4 separate regions of the Homo sapiens genome follow, and all the other regions are linked to region 1. Evidence: fine-mapped expression QTL. A gene starts in region 1. Each other region holds a variant in brackets. All regions are shown on one strand. Distances are from middle to middle.

The links. PIP is the estimated chance that this variant, and not a neighbour inherited with it, causes the effect.
Region 2: its variant is fine-mapped to the expression of GXYLT2 in tibial artery (GTEx, PIP 0.92).
Region 3: its variant is fine-mapped to the expression of GXYLT2 in aorta (GTEx, PIP 0.94).
Region 4: its variant is fine-mapped to the expression of GXYLT2 in caudate (GTEx, PIP above 0.99). The same link has a PIP of 0.9 or more in breast, left ventricle, nucleus accumbens, putamen, subcutaneous fat and thyroid.

Annotation. Positions count from the first base shown.
Region 1 is chr3:72,885,800-72,890,950 of GRCh38, forward strand. GXYLT2 (glucoside xylosyltransferase 2) reads left to right here and starts at 2,247. Exons shown (of 7, transcript NM_001080393.2): 1 at 2,247-2,709. The coding sequence starts at 2,435. RefSeq lists silencers at 2,287-2,516, 2,617-2,746.
Region 2 is chr3:72,907,219-72,912,369 of GRCh38, forward strand. It overlaps GXYLT2 (glucoside xylosyltransferase 2), which reads left to right. Exons shown (of 7, transcript NM_001080393.2): 2 at 1,149-1,341. Among named protein-coding and RNA genes, the nearest start is that of GXYLT2, 22 kb to the left of the region's middle. The variant G/A (reference allele first, on the strand shown) is at 2,863.
Region 3 is chr3:72,929,100-72,934,250 of GRCh38, forward strand. All of the region lies in intron 3 of GXYLT2 (glucoside xylosyltransferase 2), which reads left to right. It also overlaps the pseudogene FTH1P23. Among named protein-coding and RNA genes, the nearest start is that of GXYLT2, 44 kb to the left of the region's middle. The variant C/T (reference allele first, on the strand shown) is at 2,419.
Region 4 is chr3:72,972,030-72,977,180 of GRCh38, forward strand. GXYLT2 (glucoside xylosyltransferase 2) reads left to right here. Exons shown (of 7, transcript NM_001080393.2): 7 at 2,948-4,886. The coding sequence ends at 3,130. Among named protein-coding and RNA genes, the nearest start is that of PPP4R2, 22 kb to the right of the region's middle. The variant C/A (reference allele first, on the strand shown) is at 3,170.

The DNA.
Region 1 (5,151 bases):
ACTAAAATGAGATTTGACCACATCCAAAGAAAAAAAAATTAGAGGATGTAGTTTTCCACCAATCAGAGCAATCCAAACAAATCCAAAAGTTGAGTTTGGACTCAGTGGAAGGAGGCAGATTAGGCTTTTTTTTTTGGCTTCAGTGAGGTTCAAGAAAACTGAGTCCTCTCTTTGGTCCATGATTCTTTGGTGTTTGAGGCTAAAACCCTGGCTACTAATCAAGTGTTACTTTGACTCACTCTGCCTTTGTTTATCCTTGTTGCATCTGTCCTCCTAGAGGTAGAAGGGAGGGGGCAAGACAGAGTTGGGAATGCCTGCTTCTCTGGGCCACATGTCAACAGAGTGGTGGCCATTTCTAAACCTGAAAGATCTAAACATCATGCCTTAGCCTGGCCTAGTGTTTCTCAACAGGGTCCCACATTGGGCCAGGATAGTTTTCGTTGTTGGTATGTCCTGAGCATTGCAGGAGGTTTTGCATATGCTAGTAGAACCTGTCAGCCTTCCCACAATTCCAGATGCTTCCTGGTAGGATGGAACCTTCTCCCTCATCTTTGAGAACTAATGGATTCTTTGCGCTTACTCACCTACAACATGTCCCCCACACTGAACTTGCACCCTGCCATTTCCTAGATGTCTGCTTGGCAAGAGCTTCCAAATTACTAAATATTCTCATCTCTAGAACTTTTAATACAATGGGTTCTCAAGGAATTAAAATAAAATGCTAATATGAGAATAATTCAGAATATAACTAAATTTTAGATTATTTATAAAGCAACATGGAATCTTGTAGAAACTCAGGGACGGGCTGGGCGCGGTGGCTCATGCCTGTAATCCCAGCACTTTGGAAGAACGAGACGGGCGGATCACTTGAGGTCAGGTGTTCAAGACCAGCCTGGCCAACGTGGTGAAACCCCGTCTCTACTAAATATACAAAAATCAGCCGGGTGTGGTGGCGCAGCCTGTAATCCCAGCTACTTGGGAGGCTGAGGCAGGAGAATGGCTTGAACCCGGGAGGCGGAGGCTGCGGTGAGTTAAGATTGCACCATTGCACTCCTGCCTGGGCTACAGAGTGATCCAAAAAAAAAAAAAAAAAAAAAACTGAAAAACTCAGGGACGTTGTTATAACTTAACTAGTGTTCTTTGTTCTGTGGTGTGCTGAAAAGAGAGTTAATGGAGTCCTGGCTGTCAGTTCACCGTGAGTCATAAGAGGATGTGTCCTAATGTTTCAGATTTGTAACTGGGGATCCCCTGGAAGAATCGTCTGGAAATTACGACCTTCATCTGGCGATTGCAGCTGTTAAAGTCTCCAAAGAAGCCATTCTTACATTGTGTTGTGAAATTATTACTCTATCTCAAATCTGTGCCAGAAAGAAAATAAAATGTGTGTTTATGTGTATATTATAAGCTATGTTTTATTGAACTAATCATTACAGAACTTTTATTGGGCACCGACTGTGAGCCAGGCACTGTGCTAGTTTCTTTGAAGGCATTATTTAATTTAATGCTCACAAAACGCCTCTGTAGTGAGCAGTATTGTCATTCCCATTTTGCACGTAAGGAAGTTAAGGCTTAAGAAAGTTGTGCAGCTTCCTCAGGATCACCAAGCCAGTTAAGCACAGTGTCAGATTTCAAATCCAAACTTTGAAATTCATTCTCTAATTTCTTCAGACTACATGGATCGGTTCGGTCCAGTCTAGCTGTCCCAAGTTCTACTTTGGTGTTTTGAGTCTGAAACCCCAACTACTAATCACGTGTTACTTTTACTCGCTTTGCCTTATTTTGCATGTGTCCTTGTTGAATATGTCCTCCTCCAGGAAAAAGGGAGGTGGCAAGACAGAGGCGGCAATAGGGGTTTATTCAACAGATATTTATTGGGCACCACCACCCGCAGATCCCTGCACTGGGCAAACAGGACAGAGATGTTCCTGCCTGAAAGGATGTGTGGATAAGTGCACAAATGTGTGGATAGATGGATAAAATAAATAAGGAGGAAGCACATGGAATACATCAACAAATAAGTGAATCATGGTATGAGAGAATCAGCGGGAACAGTGGATGGCATGGGTGTGTGAGTGAATGGGGAAGTAAACGAACGAACGAACGAATGAATGAATGAAGTGGTTTTGAGTCTGAGCTACCAGAAGCCCGAGAGCCTGGCTGCGGGCGGGCGGAGGGGCGGCTACTCCACACAGTACGGTAGGCGCAGGCTGCTCCTCCTGTAACCCAGCTCTCACCGCCTCCCCCTCCTCTCCTCTCTCTCCTCCTCCTTCGCCGTCGCCGCCGCCGCCGGCCGCCCGCCGGCCGCCACGACCCCAGTCCCCGGCGGGCGGGCGGAGGAGGCGACCGCCGCGCGCTGCTGCACTCATCCTGCCGCCGCCGCGATGCGCAGAGGGGCCGAGCCGCCTGGGGGCCGCCGCCGCCGCCGCGCCGCACCATGAAGCTCCGCAGCAAGGCGGCGGCGCTGCTCTTGCTCGCGCTGGCCGCGCTGCTGCTGGCGCTGCTGTCCCTGCGCGCTGGCCGCGCTGAGCCCCCAGCGCTGCCCGCGCGCCCCGCGTCCGCCCCGCAGCGCCACCCCGCGCCTGTCCCCGCGCGCTGGCCGGGGCCGGGCGCCCTCCCCGGGGCCAGCCCGGGAGTTCGGAGGCGCCGGCCCCCGCGTCCGCGCCCCCGAGCGGGCCGCCGGGGCGCTGCGAGACTGGAGAAGTTGGCGAGGTGAGTCGTGGCAACCCCAGAATCCCATCTGCGGACCCGTGTCTCGCTCCCTACACCCGTGCCAAGTCCAAGGGAGGCTTTGCGCTGGAGAGACAGATTTCCAAGTTTCACCCACGGGCTGCCCACTTCTGTTTCTTAACCCGATAGAAAAGAAGACCCACCTTGGTGGAGTCCCCCTAACAGCTCGGTGTTGATAATCACGTACATTTTTTGAAGTGTCAAGGAAAGTGGTTTCGTACATTACATTTTTTAACTGTCAAGGCAAGGCGTATTTTTGCACTCTTGCAAACATGCACCCTTTGTTTAATTTGTCAAAAGCCATCACGGTGCAAGAATGTTTTATCTAATTCTCATGTTTCACTGGAGAATTTTACCGAAACCTTAGATATGGTTGAGTTGGAAAAGTTAGATGTTTACCAAGGACTGGCAGCCTCTCATTTAACCTCGAGTACCCCCATGCTTAGAACAGAAGGGACACTTGACCTAAGTTTATTAAAAAGAAGTTTTCTCCTTGAAAGGACTGATGCGTGGCACAGAAAAGACAGAGTGGGGGTTTCCAGATCCTCATTCTGTTTCAGGCTCGAGTGTGGTCAAAGGGTCCTCCTACAAGAAAAACAACTTAACCTTCGACCTTCTGTTTGATACTCTCTTTCCCTACACAAAGCCTAACACGCGGAGGCTTTTCATCAGAGAGCTTTATTTTTGGCCTCAGGGTTGCTGGAACGCCCCGCAGGTTAGGGATTTGAGTTCATTTCCTTTGTTGTGGAGGGCTTTTCAACAATCCCCTTGTCTTGTAGCGAGTCTGTTTCATCTGCCCTTTCAAAACTGTTGTTTCTAACTGCCATTGCAACGTCCTTGTTTGCTGGGCTCCTTAATTTCAACCTGAAAGGAGTTGAAAAATTATTTTTGACCATAATGACTAAATCTCTTTGGTGCCTTTACTGTAACTAAAAGACACGAAACCTCAAGAAGTAGCTGTGTCAGCCTTTGTTTCCCTTCTGTCTCAGTACAAATGGGTACTGACAAGTTTTAGGGGGAAAAAACCCCAACAATCTGTCGCTTTAAAGTACTTATAACACTTTACAGCCCTTTCTGGATGTATACAGTCTTTAAGGATATCTTTGTTAGGAAATTAATAGGATTTCCCCTCTTCTATACTGGAGTTTCTTGTAAGAGATTAATTAGGGTTTAACTGCAAGTTTAATATGATTGCTAAGTTTGATGGGACAACTGGTAAGATAATAATAACTGTCATCCTTAACATCGCTAACCTATTGCCAGGGACAGTGCTAACCGCAGTACATACAAATAGTCACAGTTAACACTTAACATATACAACTACATAATCCACACCATAACCTTCCCCCCCACCGCTGTTTTTCTTTTGGTTTTTTTTTTGTTTTTTTTTTTTTTTTGTGACAAAGTCTTCCTCTGTCGCCCAGGCTGGAGTGCCGTGCTGCGATCTCTGCTCACTGCAACCGCTGCCTCCCGGGTTCAGGCCTCCCAGATTCAAGTGATTCTTGTGCCTCAGCCTGCCAGGTAGCTGGCAAACAGGCGTGTGCCACCATGCCCAGCTGATTTTTGTATTTTTAGTAGAGAGACGGGGTTTCACCATATTGGCCAGGAACTCCTGAGCCCAGTGATCCATCTGCCTCAGCCTTTCCCAAAGTGCTAGGATTACAGGCGTGAGCCACCGCGCCGGGCCCAACCATAACCCTTTGACAGTGGTTCTCAAAGTGTGGACTTCAGACCAGTGGCACAGGCATCATCTGGGAACTTGTTAGAAATGCAGATTCCTGGGCCCCACCCCAACCCTACAGAATCAGAAGCTTTGGGGGGTCAGCAACCGTGTTTTAACACGTCCCTCCCATTGTTTCTCATGCACAACAAAGTTTGAGAACCTGCTCTGCAAAGTAAGCACCAATGGTATCCCCACTTTTCAGATGAGGAAAGTATTGCACAAGGGTTAGCAGTTTGTCCAAGGTTCACAGGTAACCTGGTAGAGAAGGATAAAGATCCAGGCAGTGTGGGCTCAGGTTGAGCACTTACCTGCTATGCTGATGTCAGGCCATAGACTTGCCTGCAATTCGTAATTTTACTGAGATGTCTTTTAAAGAAACACTGTAGATTTTTGGATCTGTCTCATTCTTCAAGGTGTCGAGAACAGTGGCGCAGCATCTTTTTGTGTCTATCTGAACAAAGTGTCTCTGACTAGGAGGAGATCATGAACAGAATCCAAATGGATGTTTTAGGGAAGGAGTGTTTCTATTTCCAGGAGTAACAGTACCCTTGAAGCCATTTTTCTTTTGAACATATCTCTTAGATTATCGTGGAAATTATGGCCAACACCATAGGAATACAGAACAAAATTTTAAAACTGGGGAAGGAGTAAAAAACAAAAGCCACAGGAAGTCTCAGGCTCAAATGCATAAACAGTTGACA
Region 2 (5,151 bases), 21 kb after region 1:
GAGCCATGAGGCTGTGCTTCTACTAAGCATGCTCATAAGTAATCAAACTGGGAGCCTTTCCAAAATGCTCCACCCACATCTTCAACTTTCCTCCTGGTGAAAGAAATCTGGAGCAAGACTGCCATTATTCAACCATGCAGTGAATAATGGAGCAGCAAGCTGATTGAACTCGAAGTTTTTGGAAGGAAGGTAGCATTTGACATCCAAGTTCCCCTGGTCTCCAAATCTTTTGTGCAAGTAAATTAGTTTCATTTGTCTCAGGGCACCTTTTCCAGGCCAACTTCTTCCAACTTGACTGCAAATGTTTCTCAGTGGTGTGTTTGAGGCTTGGCTGCATCCCTTCGTCTGGAACAAATCTTTTATTACTAGGAAATAGCTGGATGATGATTCTGGACCCTTGGACCCTATCCCTCTGTCAGCTGTTGACTCAATATTTGATACCTTGATCATTTTCAGATTAACCTACCCCCTCTCCTGCCTGTTTCTCATTAATGTGAATTTCATACTGGAAGATGAATTTCATACCCACCACCTCACCAGTATTGGCGAGACGGTCAGGATTAACACCTGTTTCTTCAAGACTCTCCTGAGATGTCGTCAGGGCGCATATGTTGTTTTCTTTGCTCACCTCCCAGACTTGCATGACTTGCTTTGGTCCAGTGGTCATGCATTCCACCCCAACCTAAAAACATCCAGATGATGGGAATATCATGTTGCTCGTTTCACATGGGAAAGCCACAACCCACACTCCTCTTGTTCAAGTTGCATTCAAATCTAATTTCCACGGCCTGTGCGAGTGGGAGCTCCACAGCCCTTGTGTCAGCTGTCGAAGTTTAGCAATACTATTTCCAAACATGGGCCAGTAGGCAGCCAGCAGGCACCAGACAGCTGAGTGCTGGCAGAAAAAGCCTCAGACACCTATAGCAGTCCAAACAGTGACTCATCCTGCTATTGCCAGGATAAATATGGGAATAAATGGTATTTTTCTCTAAGCAGGAAGAATTGTCAAAATGCTTATCACTTTATAAAATATAACAGATTGTGCCTGATCATGTTTTGAAATGTTCTAACCATTCACTCGCCGGTTTTTTGTTGTTTTTACTTTTTTGAGTTTAGTAATAGCTTTCACTTGTTTTCCCTCTTTCTAGGAGGCCTGGAGAACCCAGGAGTTTCCAAGCTGTGCTGCCACCCGAGCTCTGGATCCACCTGGCTGTGGTGGCCTGTGGCAATCGGCTGGAGGAGACGCTGGTCATGCTCAAATCAGCTGTGCTTTTTAGCCACAGGAAGATCCAATTCCACATCTTCACTGAAGACTCTCTGAAGCCCGAGTTTGATAAGCAGGTGAATTTGCAGAAATCATGGCACAGTGTTTACTAAGTACAAACAGACTACATTTTAGGAACTGCATATTCTGTTAACTAATGTATTTTGCTGCATGTTCAATTGTGTGACTTTGAACACTTGACTCTGAGCCTCAGTTTTTGGTAAAACAGGGATAATTATACCTACCTCATAGAGACATGGTGAGGATTGAATGAGACGAGGGTCTCACTCTATTGCCAAGGGTAGAGTACAGTGGTGCAATCTCGGCTCACTGCAGCCTCAACCTTCCAGGCTCAAGTGATCCTCCCGCCTTAGCCTCCCAAGTAGCTGGGACTACAGGCATGCACCACCATGTCTGGCTAATTTTTGTGTATTTTTTAATAGAGACAGAATTTTGCCGTGTTGCCCAGGTTGGCTTAAGCAGTCTACCCACCTTGGCCTCCCAAAGTGCTGGGGTTATAGGCATGTGCCACCATGCCCAGCCCCCGTTTTTTCCTTTTCTTTCTTTCTTTCTTCCTTTCTTTTTTTTTTTTTTTTTTTTTTTTGAGACAGCGGCTCACTCTGTTGCCCAGGCTGGAGTCCAGTGGTGCGATCTTAGCTCATTGCACCCTCTGTTTCCTGGGTTCAAGCGATTCTTCTGCCTCAGCCTCCCGAGTAGCTGTGATTACAGGACTGTGCCCCCATGCCTGGCTAATTTTTGTATTTTTAGTAGAGATGGGGGTCTCACCATGTTGCCTAGGCTGGTCTTGAACTTCTGACCTCAAATGATCCACCTGCCTGTCCCTCCCAAAGTGCTGGGATTACAGGCATGAGCCACTGCGCCTGGCCGGTTTTTTTTTCCCCATATATAGTTGTCTGTCTATGTTTGTACATATAGACATGCATATGTATAATTACATACATATGTATGTATCCTGATTAAATTGTATTTCTTTTACGAAAATCAGGATTGTACTCTGTATATTGTTGTGGAACTTGCTTTTTGCATTGAAAACTGTATCATCAGCATTGTTCCCAGTCAGTACTCCTACATTCTTACCTCATTCTTTTTGGTGACTACATAGTATTTTATTATGGGGCTGGGTCCTCATTTATTTGACTATTCCCATACTGAAGAACAGGTAATGAGTTTTTTCCAGTACACAAAAAGAGCTTTGGAAAGGTCTCTTCCCCCAGCGTAGGTACACACGTGACCTTTGCAGATCAAGCTTTGTTTTCCTTGAGAGTTTTCTCTTGCTGTAAGTTCTCAAATGGTGGCAGAGCGAGAAGCTGGTTTGCTTTGTGTCTACCAACTTGAGTCAACAGTGCTGTATCCTGTCACCAGGCTAGCTGGACTAATGAGAAATGCCCAAAAAAAGCATGTTGGGCAGAGAAAGGCTAATAATAGAAAGATGGAAAATGTGTTATGTTTGAGTAGGAAAAAAAAAGTACCTTGACATCTTTACCAAGAGAAACCATGGAGGAAATAGTCTTGGGGCTTTGGAATTGATTGGAAAATGCCTTGTAAAGGATCTGAATCAGGGGAAGGGTGAAGGAAAA[G/A]GGCTGAAACTCTATATAGTTAGCTCAGAGGGTGAAGTATAAGGGAAATGATAATGAGAATATATAGCATTTGTTAAGGGCTTATGATTTATGAGTTCATCTCATTTAATCCTCATAATCTTCAAAGGTAACCTTTGAAGAAGGTAATTATTATGTCCCAATTTTACAGACTGAGATCATTGAGCTTAGAGAATTTTAGTGATTTGCTCCTCAGGGTTCAGGTCAAGTTTATGGCTCACCCTTCCATGGAATTAATCGATATGCCATACCACCTCCTCAACTAGTAGACAGAAGACTCAAATTCAAAACTCACCTCCACTATGTACTTGCTATATGACCTTGGGTTAGTCTTTTGGCCTTTTTGAGCCTCAGTTTCCCCATCTGCAACTTGAGGCTAGCGGGTTTGCTAAAAGAGATGGTAGATCTGTAATATGGATAGGTCAGGTCAGGCTTCAGTAACAACTCCCCCAAAACTCAGACACTTTTCATGTGCCTGCAGCTTGCTTCCCAGGGGACAGAGCCTCCATTCTGTACAGCCTCTTAGGTTTGGGACGGAAGTAGACTGAGGCTATTCATGTGTTAGCTACACTTGCCAGAGCATTTGACATCTGTAGTTCGTGGGATGCCATGGCAGGAAAGAGACTAGAGAGTCATAACCCCGCCTTTCATTCCCTCAGTGTGGCAGTGACACAGGTCTTTCCATGCATGTTTAACTGGCTAGTAGTCACAAGCCCATCCAACTGCAGGGGACTGAGAAGTGCTCTATGTGGCGGAACAAAGGGAAGCTGGCTATGTGCAAACACTACTCATGTCTTGTACAATATCTGTCTACCCAGTACTTAATGAGTACCTGCTGCATACTAAAAAGCAAGGATGTGGGGATGGAGCAGAACAAAATACAGACTTGGACTTTAAAAGGGGAAGGGAAGGGCCAGGCGTGGTGGCTCACACCTGTAATCCCAGCACTTTGCGAAGCTGAGGCGGGCGGATCACCTGAGGTCAGGAGTTCGAGACCAGCCTGGTCAACATAGTAAAACCCTGTCTCTACTAAAAATACAAAAATTAGCTGGGTGTAGTGGAGTGCGCCATAGTCCCAGCTACTCAGGAGGTTGAGGCAGGAGAATTGCTCAAACCTGGGAGGCGGAGTTGCAGTGAGCTGAGATTGTGCCATTGCACTCTAGCCTGGGCGACAGAGAAAGACTCTGTCTCAAAAAAAATAACGAAAGGGAAGGGAAGGAAGATGTATACGTGCAACCATATCTGTTTAGCAGGTTGTACTTTCCAAGGAGGCCCCCAATGGTCCCACCTTCTGTTATTCTCATGCTGGTATACTTCCCTCCTACATTGTCCCAGGGTCCTCTGTGTAACTAATAGGACAGGGCAGAAGGGATGGTATGTCACTTCTGAGATTAAGTTACAAAAGGCACTTCACCTTCCATCTCGGATCAGTGGGTCTGGGGGAAGCCAGCTACCATGTCAGAGTAGCCCTCTGGAGAGGCCTGCATGGTGAGGAACAGAGGACCCTTGCCAACACTTGTGTGTGAGCTGGATGGAAGATCCTCCAACCCCTTCAAGCCTTCAGATGACCATAGTCCTGTAATCTCATGAGAGGCCCTGAAACAGAACAACCCAGCTTGTACATTCTCAACCCTAAGAAACTATGTAAAATCATACATGTTTGTGGTTTTATTTACTTTTATTTTTATTTTTTTGAGACAGGGTCTCACTCTGTTGCCCATTGCAGTGACACAATCATAGCTTACTGCATCCTTGAACGCCTGGGCTCAAGCAATCCTCCTGCCTCAGTATCCCCTCCATGCCTGGCTAATAAAAATATATATTATATATACTTAAATGTATATAATATATAAGTTGGGTGTGTGTGTGTGTGTGTGCATGTGTGTGTGTGTGTGTATATATATATATATATATATTTTTTTTTTTTTTTGAGACAGCGTCTCGCTCTGTCTCCCAGGCTGAAGTGCAGTGGCATGATCTTAGCTCACAGCATTCTCCGCCTCCTGGATTCAAGAAGTTCTCATGCCTCAGCCTCCCAAGTAGCTGGGACTACAAACTGCGCCACCACGCCCGGCTAATTTTTGTATTTTTAGTAGAGACAGGGTTTCGTCACATTGGCCAGGCTTGTCTCGAACACCTGACCTCAAGTAATCTACCTGCCTCAGTCTCTCAAAGTGCTGGGATTACAGGCATGAGTCACTGTGCCCAGCACTGGCTAATATTTTATTTTTTGTAGAGATGCGGTCTCCCTATGTTGCCCAGGCTGGTTTT
Region 3 (5,151 bases), 43 kb after region 1:
TCATCAACCGCTAGATCAACCTGGAGCTCTACGCCTCCTACGTTTACCTGTCCATGTCTTACTACTTTGACCGCGATGATGTGGCTTTGAAGAACTTTGCCAAATACTTTCTTCACCAATCTCATGAGGAGAGGGAACATGCCGAGAAACTGATGACGTTGCAGAACCAACGAGGTGGCCGAATCTTCCTTCAGGATATCAAGAAACCAGACTGTGACGACTGGGAGAGCGGGCTGAATGCGATGGAGTGTGCATTACATTTGGGGAAAAAAAAATATGAGTCAGTCACTACTGGAACTGCACAAACTGGCCAGTGACAAAAATGACCCCCATTTGTGTGACTTCATTGAGACACATTACCTGAATGAGCAGGTGAAAGCCATCAAAGAATTGGGTGGCCACGTGACCAACTTGTGCAAGATGGGAGCACCCGAATCTGGCTCGGCAGAATATCTCTTTGACAAGCACACGCTGGGAGACAGTGATAACGAAAGCTAAGCCTCAGGCTAATTTCCCCATAGCCATGGGGTGACTTCCCTGGTCACCAAGGCAGTGCATGCATGTTGGGGTTTCCTTTACTTTTTCTATAAGTTGCACCACAACATCCAGAAAAAAGAAAATATTCACTTAATGCAAAATAAAGCAGAAAAGAAAGAATAGAGGAACAACAAAAATATTAGACATATAGAAAACAAATAGTAAAATGGCAGACATAAATTCGACTATATAAATAATAGCATTGAATGTGAATGGATTCGACAATCAAATAAAAACACAGAGTTGCAGGCCCGCTGCAGTGGCTCATGCCTGTAATCCCAGCACTTTGGGAGGCCAAGGCAGGTGGATCACCTGAGGTCAGAAGTTCAAAACCAGCCTGGCCAACATGGTGAAATGGTGTCTCTACTAAAAATACAAAATTAGCTGGGCGTGGTGGCGTGCACCTGTAATCCCAGCTACTCGAGAGGGTGAGCCAGGAGAATCACTTGAACCCAGGAAGCAGAGGGTGCAGTGAGTTGAGATTGCGTCATTGCACTCTAGCTTGGGCAAAAAGGGCGAAACTCCATCTCAAAAAAACAAAAAAAAAAACAGAGTTGCAGTTATAGTTGATAAAGAATACAGTCGAACTGTGTGCTCTCTATAGGAGGTGTTCATGCCTGTAATTCTAGCTGATGCGGGCAGATCACTTGAGCTCAGGAGTTCAAGACCAGCCTGGCCAACATGGTGAAACCTCATCTCTCCTAAAAACACAAAAATTAGCTGGGCGTGGTGGCATGTGCCTATAGTCCCAGCTACTCAGGAGACTGAGGCAGGAGAATTGCTTGAGCCCAGGAGGCGGAGATTGCAGTGAGCCAAGATCATGCCACTGCACTCCAGCCTGGGTAACAGGAGTGAAACCCTGTCTCAAAAAAAAAAAAAAGATATAAATAAGCAATTCATCAACAGTAGTAGGAGATATGAGTGCCCCTCTTTTCTTTTTCTTTTTCTTCTTCTTCTTTTTTTTTTTTTTTTTTTGACACAGGGTTTCACTCTGTCACCCAGGCTAGAGTACAGTGGTATGATCATGGCTCACTGCAGCCTTGACCTCCCAGGCTCAGGTGATCCTCCCACCTCAGCCTCTCAAGTAGCTGGGACTACAGGTGTGCACCACCAAGCCCAACTAATTTTCATACTTTTTGTAGAGATGGGGTTTCACCCTGTTGCCCAGGCTGGTCTCGAACCCCTGGGCTCAAGTGATCCACCTGCCTCAGCCTCCCAAAGTGCTAGGATTACAGGCATGAGCCACTGCACCCAGCTGCCTTACTTTCAATAATGGATTGAACAACTAGGCTGAATGTCAACACGGAAATAGAAGAACAACACCATAAACCAGCTGAACCAACCGACTTCTTTAGGACACTCCACCCAACACCAGTAGAATACGTTCTTGTGAGTGCACATGAAACTTTCTCCAGAATGGACCATATGTTGTACCATAAAAGAAGCTGTAAAAAGCATAAAAGGATTGAAGTTATACAATGTATGTTCTCTGACCACAGTGGAATGGAATTAGAAGTCAATAACAGAAAGAAATTTGGGAAGTTAACAAAAATGTAGAAATTAAGTAACATACTTCTTTATTTTTTTATTTTATTTTCTATTTTTTTTTTGAGACGGAGTCTTGCACTGTCCCCAGGCTGGAGTGCAGTGGCTCCATCTCCGCTCACTGCAAGCTCCGCCTCCCAGGTTCACCCCCCATTCTCCTGCCTCAGCTTGCCGAGTAGCTGGGACTACAGGTGCCCGTCACCACACATGGCTAATTTTTTGTATTTTTAGTAGAGACGGGGTTTCACCATGTTAGCCAGGATGGTCTCGATCTCCTGACCTCGTGATTCACCTGCCTCGGCCTCTCAAAGTGCTAGGATTACAGGCGTGAGCCAC[C/T]GCGCCCGGCCTAAGTAACATACTTCTTTCTAAATAGCCAATTGCTTTAAGAAGAAACTACAAGGGAAACTACAATGAAAATGAAGATACAACATACCAGTACTTATGGCAGACACCTAACACAGGGTTTAGAGGGAAATTTATAAACTTCAGCAGTACAAATGAGGAAAGGCCTCAAGTCAATAGCCTAACCTTCCACTTTACAGCACCTCAGAAGAGCAAACTAAATCCAAGCAAGCAGAAGGATGGAAATAATAAAGATTCAACTGAAAATTAATGATACAGAGAAGAGAAAAAACAGTAGAGGAGTAACACCAAAACTAAAAATTGGTACTTTGAAAAGATCAACAAAATTGACAAACCTTTAGGTAGACTGAGCTAGAAAACAAGGGAAGACTCAAACTACTAAAATCAGGAAGGAAAGAGGGAACATAACTACCAACATTACCAAAATAAAAGGATTATAAAGCAATACTATGAATAATTGTATTTCAATCAATTAGGTAATTTAGATGAAATGGACAAATTTGAATTCTGTGGATTGTCTTTTAACTTTTTTTTTTTTTTTGAGATGGAGTTTTCTGGAGTGCAATGGCACGATCTTGGCTCACACCAACCTCCGCCTTCTGGGTTCAAGCAATTCTCTTGCCTCAGCCTCCCCAGTAGCTGTGATTACAGGTGCCCACCACCACGCCCAGCTAATTTTTTGTGTGTATTTTTAGTAGAGATGGGGTTTCACCATGTTGGCCAGGCTGGTCTCAAACTCCTAACCTCAGTTGATCCACCTGCCTCAGCCTCCCAAAGTGCTGGGATTACAGACATGAGCCACCGTACGTGGCCCACTTTAATAGTGTCATTGGCAACACAAAAGTATTTAATTTTGTTTAATTCAAAGTTATCTATTTCCATTTTTGTTGTACTTTTGGTGTCATATCTAAGAAACCATTGTTTAATCCAAAGTCATGCTTATTTCTGAACCAATCATTATGTCCAGGAAGACAGGATACTCAGATTGGCTTGACTTGAATCACATTCTCCTCCATGGGCCACAGGGGCCAACAACATTTAAGCCACATGGATTGGGTTTTACCACAAGAGAGTGGCTCTTGTCAGGAGATGGAGAAAGATATGAAGGGGAGGGCAAACAATAAACATCTGTTTGGCTTAACAATGAATAGTTATATAACATTTCTTCTCAGGCCTTCAGAGAGGTCCAGTTACTTTGTTAAGATGAGGAATATGAGATAATATACAAAGTGTGGCCTTTAGAAAATGTAATAGCCACAGTGTTAGGAAGCATTTAATGGAGACAAATTAATTTGAGATATTATTATATAGAGACAGTATGGTATAGTTGTTAAGACCCCAGGCTCTGGAAGCAGCCCAAATACATTTAAATCTTGTTTCTACCACTTACCACTTTGTAACCAGAAGAAATAATTTCAACTTTCCTTGCCTCCATTTACTCATCTGTAAAAAGAGAATAATAATATTGCCTATCTCATAGTGTTGTGAAAATTCAAATTAGTGAATACATTTAACACCCTTGGAAACAATGCCTGGCACATAGAAAGTGTTAGATACTATTTTTATTATTATACCTATTTTTTTAGGACTGATATGTAGCATGAAACTACTGAGACAGTTAATTCTCTTTCCGAAAAGGACTTTATCTTGATTAATAGCAACATCATTTTTTTTGACCCAGTCGGCCAAGCCATAACTAACCATGAACAATTGTAAACATGTCCCAGCAGGTAACGCTCCTATTAAAACATCAGTCACATTGTAGGGAATTGTCTTTTTGACTCCAGCATAATTAGCATCATAGTATTAGATGCTAATAGTTGCAGTAGTTGCTAGTAAATGCTAATAGATGCAATAGTTCTACAACTGAAGAGTCATTATATTTCTTACGAAGCCTAGTGTAAGAATCACAATAATATATGTTGATTACTTACTGTAACGTAGTTCTTTGGTTGAAAGTGATCATATATGATGTTGGCTATAGTAAGTACAAATATTAAGAAAAAAGAAAAATAAATGAACGTGATCATAATTGATTCAGGCTGAGTTAATCAGAAGAGAATTTGATTGAAAGGATGTTGGGGCTGGACACAGTGGCTCGTACCTGTAATCCCAACACTTTAGAAGGCCAAGATGGGAAGATGACTTGAGCCCAGGAGTTCAAGACCAGCCTGAGCAACAAAGTGACACCCTGTCTCTACAAAGAATTAACCGGGTGTGGTGGCACAGGTCTGTAGTCCCAGCAGCCTGGGGGGGCCGAGCTTGGAGGATCACTTGAGCTCCAGGAGATCGAGGCTGCAGATGAGCTGTGATGGCCCCACTGCACTCCAACTCGGGCAACAGAGTGAGATCCTGTCTCAAAAATTAAGAATAATAATAATAAAGAAAGGAAAGGATGTTGGGAGTTCTCAGAATGAAAGAGGAGCTTAGCCAGCTGGACTTGTGTTGGATTAAAGATGGCAAGGAAATTATTTGTATTTGTATTCATTCTTTCCTAAAACTATACAAAAATTGATAGTTAATTTTAATTTTATTCTTTTTTTTTTTTTTTTTTTGAGACAGGGTCTTGCTCTGTCACCCAGGCTAGAGTGTAGTGGTGTGATCACAGCTTATTGAAGCCTCAACCTCCTCCTGGGTTCAAGTGATCCTTCCATCTCAGCCTCTGGAGTAGCTGGGACTGCAGGTGTGCACCACCATGCCAGGCTA
Region 4 (5,151 bases), 86 kb after region 1:
TCTCTTCTTGCTTATAAACAGTTTCTCTCTATATACCTTTTTCTTTTTCTCCCTTCATCTGTCTCTGAAAATATTCTCTCTCTTTCTCTCTATTTCTCTCTCTGTTTCAGGTGCTCATAGACATCCTAACCTGTGTGTTTGTGTGTACGTGTTTGTGTGAAAGGGCAGTGCAGCCTCCCCACAAGAAGGCATCTATCATATAGACATTTTTGCAGTAATTCTCTTGACAGTCACTTATGAAGCATCTATTTTATGCAGGAACAATTCTAGTTTCTAGGAATTTGGAAGGTAATAAGATGAACAAAGCCCTAGTCTTTAAGAAGCATATATTCTGAGCTGGGCGCAGTGGGTCACACCTCCCAGCACTTTGGGAGACCGAGGCAGGTGGATCACCTGAGGTCATGAGTTCGAGACCAGCCTGGCCAACATGGTGAAACCCCATCTCTACTAAAAATACAGAAATCAGCCGGGCGTGGTGGCAGGCACCTGTAATCCCAGCTACTCAGGAGGCTGAGGCAGGAGAATTTCTTGAACCCAGGAAGTGGAAGTTGCAGTGAGCCAAGATCGCACCACTGCAGTCCAGCCTGGGTGACAGAGCAAGACTCTGTCTCGGAAAAAAAAAAAAAAAAAAAGAAGCATATATTCTGGTGGGGGAAGCCAGACAATACTGATTGAGAAAAAGAAAGAAAAATTCAGCCTGGGCGACATAGTGAGATGCGTCTCTACAAAAATTAAAAAAAAAAAAAAAAAATTAGCCTGGTGGCACATGCAGGTAGTCCCAGCTACTGGGTGGGGAGGGGTTGGGGCTGGGGTGGGAAGATCTCTTGAGCTTAGGAGGCCAAGGCTACAGTGAGCTAGGATGGCCCCACTGTACTCCAGCCAGAGCAAGACTTTGCCTCTTTAGGAAAAAAAATAGTAACAACTGGGCGTCATGGCAAGTGCCTGTGGTCCCAGCTAATTGTGAGGCTGAGATGGAGGATCACTTGAGCCCAGGAGTTCAAGGCTGCAGTGAGCCGTGATTGCCCCTCTGTACTCCAGCCTGGGTGACACAGCAAGACCCTATCTCAAAAGAAAAAAAAATCCTCTGAGATAGTGAAAGGTGAAAGGAGTTCAAAAGGTGTAAAAAGAGTGGGCTGATGGGTCCAAAGTCCTGGGCTGGAGAGGAGTGTTCTACCAGCTGGGGGAGGGGCACCAGGGAGGCTGCTTGTAAGTCCTAGACTTATCAGATGGAGGCAGCCCAGGGGAAATCTGGGGAAAATCCCGTGAAACAGAAGGAATGACCAGGGGAAAGTCCCGGAGGCAGGAATGAATTTGGTGTGCTGGAAAGACAGGAATGGCCAGATAAGAGGAGAGAGGAGGAACTGAGAGGGGAGAGTTTCCAGGTCACCTTGAACCTTTAGAACAAGGGAGGAGTTGGAATCTCATTCTAATGGCAGTGGAAAGCCCCTTCGGGAAAGTGATAGGCTCTGATTTATGATTTAGAAATATCACCTTGGTAATGTGGTGGAAGGGATGCAAGAGTGAAAACACAAAGGCTATTTATTTGTGAGACTAATCGCAGCCACCTGGGTGAGCAATGGGGCCAGCATGGGCTTGCGTGGTGGCAGGAAATGGGAAGAAGTCGCCATATTTGGGATATGCTGTTGAGATAGAGTTTACAGGACTTGCTGATGAATTGGATGAGGGTTGTGGGGGGAAAGAGAGGAATTGAGGGTGATTCCAAGGTTTTGACCTATCCTGTTCCCATTACTGGAGCTACAGTGGTGAAAAGGACAGATTCAGGACTGGCTTCAAGGGGTTTATCAATGATTTAAATTTCATGATTAAAGAAAAAGTATCCCAAACCAACCTGGTCTGGGAGAGAACCTTCTTGCATTACATAATGCATAATCTCCTTCCGAGAAGAAACTGGCATCTCTGATAAACCTGTGTAAGCAGTATTTCTGATTAATTTTAAAGGATTAACATTTGTTCTAGGAAACCAGACACCCACCTCTCCTGTTAGGCAAGAGTGTACTGATCTTTAACCATTCTTCTTTCATTTCTCACTAGTCTTTCCATATAAAATGTCCTGACCAAGAGTGGATCTTTGACTTGATCTACTACCAGACTTTTCCCTTTCAACAAGATTGTAATAAAACTTTGATACATGTGCGTAACTAAGTGGTCTGAAAGATTTATTTTGGGTTATACTGCTCATAGACGTATTCCATGAAGAAAACAAAAGAATTTTAAAAAATGGCAGTGATGATCTCAAAAGCCCAATATTAAGAGGGAAATAAACAACCACTAATATTTGGTACCTGAATTATTAAAATCTGGTTTATTGCCAATAAATTTTACTAGTAATTGTTAAACCCTGAACTTCACGAGATTACCATAGACATACCCTAAAGTTTCTTCATTAAGGTCAAAAAAGATGAAGAATTCATTGTTTTGTTGTAGTAGATTTCAAGTGAGTATCTTGAGCCTTCCTTCTACTCAGCGTAAACATGCTATGATATATGGACTTTCCTGTCCTTAGAGACATGCATCATTTTTAGATTGTAAGACCCTTAAGGACCCAAATTTTTTTTTAATTTTATTACTATTCTTTTTTAATGAGATGGGGTCTTGCCATGTTGCTCAGGCTGGTCTCAAACTCCTGGGCTCAAGTGGTCCTCCCACCTCGGCCTCTCAAAGTGCTGGGGTTACAGGTGTAAGCCACCATGCCTAGCCTTTTTCTTTTTAAAGAGGTAAAGAAACTGAGGTTCGGAGAGTTTAAATGATTACCTGGGGTTGCACAGCTGAGACAGGATTTTAAGTTAGATCCTCAAAGGTCTTTTCACTTGTCCAAACCTGTGCCTGTGGGCTTATCGTAATTCCTGTGTCATTTCTTAGTAAAAATGATCTGCATTTAAAATGGCATTTCCGTTACTAAATAAACTTTTTTTTTGTCATCTTTCAGTTTCCCTTTCAAGACAATCTCTTTCAATCCATGTATTACCCCCTTCAGCTGAAGTTTTTGGAGACTGTGCACACTTTATGTGGACGAATCCCGCAAGTTTTTCTGAAGCAAATTGAGAAAACAATGAAAAGGGCTTATGAGAAACACGTCATCATCCATGTTGGCCCCAACCAGATGCACTGAATATTTTGTCTTGTTGCAAGTCAATTAGGTGTCTTGTGA[C/A]CAAGGAAATACTAATCTCTAAGCTGCCTGGGTCTTTTTGTGTGAATATTTAATGGTGCTCCATGACTGTTGAGTTTTAAAAACCTCGTTAAATTTTGCCAAATCAGTTGCCCCCAAAAGGGAATATGCTTTTCCTTATTTTTTTTTCTAAAATGCTATTTATCTCTAAGGAAAAAAAAAAAAGACTATTACTCATTTAACATTGTTTAAGCAGGTTGAGCTAGCTGTGAAAATAGCTTTTGTGAGCCTTCTAATTCCTAAACGTCTGAGACCATTTCAGTGGCACCTGAGGTGTTATATTGATCTAGCATTCCTGAGACTCTTTCTATGCAACTGACTCCCCCACACCCGTGTTATAAAAGTAATACACACTTTTGAAACAGAGAGACACACTTGTAGAGCATATGGGTCAAGGGCTCAACATCAAGATTAGATTAGCCATAATCCTATTGACCAGTGGAAAAGATTGTTTCCATTTTAAAGCAGTTCCTTACAACCTTTTTTCTCTACTTTTGCATTTTCCACTCTAACACACATCTAAAACAGGTAATCTCAGTAAAAGCTGGCCTTTTTGCTGAGATTTTTATGTGGGAGACTAAAATATTAGATGAGATGATTATGTGTACAGAATTTTATTTAAAATACATCTGAGAGAATCATTCAGATACTTGGGTAGTGTTAAAGGATGAAGCATGTATCTGGGGGTATTTCTTCTTTTTCTTTCTTTCTTTTTTTTTTTTTTTTTTTTTTTGAGACGGAATCTCACTCTGTAGCCCAGGCTAGAATGCAGTGGCAGGATCTCGGCTCACTGCAGCTTCCACCTCCTGGGTTCAAGTGATTCTCATGCCTCAGCCTCCCCAGTAGCTGGGATTACAAGTGTGTGCCACCACACCCGGCTAATTTTTGTATTTTTAGTAGAGACACGGTTTTACCATGTTGGCCAGGCTGGTCTTGATCTCCAGACCTCAAGTGATCTGCCTGCCTCAGCCTCCCAAAGTGCTGGGATTACAAGTGTGAGCCACTGCACTCAGCCAATCTGGGAGTATTTCTAAAGAAAAAAATTACTTTGATTTGTGGAGGACTAAATCATAATACATTTCTATGCAACAATAGCTTCTGAGAGGAAATTCAGGAATGTTTGTGTTTACCACAGACAAAAACATTTGATCTGTTAATCATCAGTAGCTGTGGTCATCTCTCTTTCTTAAACTCTTGGGCAATGGGTGGAAATCAGAGACCAACTTCAAATTTAATGTGTAAAAAACAAATAGTTCAGCTGCTTCTATTGGTAAGAAAATTCAACTTCCTACCAGCCTTAGAAAGGTCTCTTTAAACAATTTCTTTCCCCCTAGGGTTACCTAGCTGGTCCATACAGGTTTTATCACCTCACTGCAAGGAGGAAGTTGAATATTCTGTTCCCCACGGGGATCTGGCTTAATCCCTAGTTGCTCATATAGTTGGTATCAGCATAGCAATATTTTGCATAATGCTTTATTTTTCTCAAATGACTATTGCATAGATGATCTTGATATTTGCAACAGCCTAGTGGATTTGGTAGGGTCCTGAATCATCTCTATAAGGCAAACAAGGAAATTGTAACACAAAGAAATAAACATATTGAATATAATTGCTATTCTGTAAGACATACAGTCTGTGTAAGATGTATCTTATTTACAGAGACATTTTTGAAAATTAAAATATTAAATACTTTTTGTTATATAGAGACAATGATCTGGAAGTATAAAAAGAAAAATATTATCTTGTTGATGTAAATATGATATCCTTATATATATTAGAATCCAATAAGATATCATGGGCGCAATATTAGCAAAAAAAAGTCAGTCTTACCCTGAAAAAAAAATAGATATGAAAATCTCAGCACTACACAGAAATGTTTAGATGTCAATCAGTTTTGGTATGCAGCATTATTATAGTAGTAACAAATTTAAATCTAAAATTTTAGAGTAATACTTTCCTTCTGA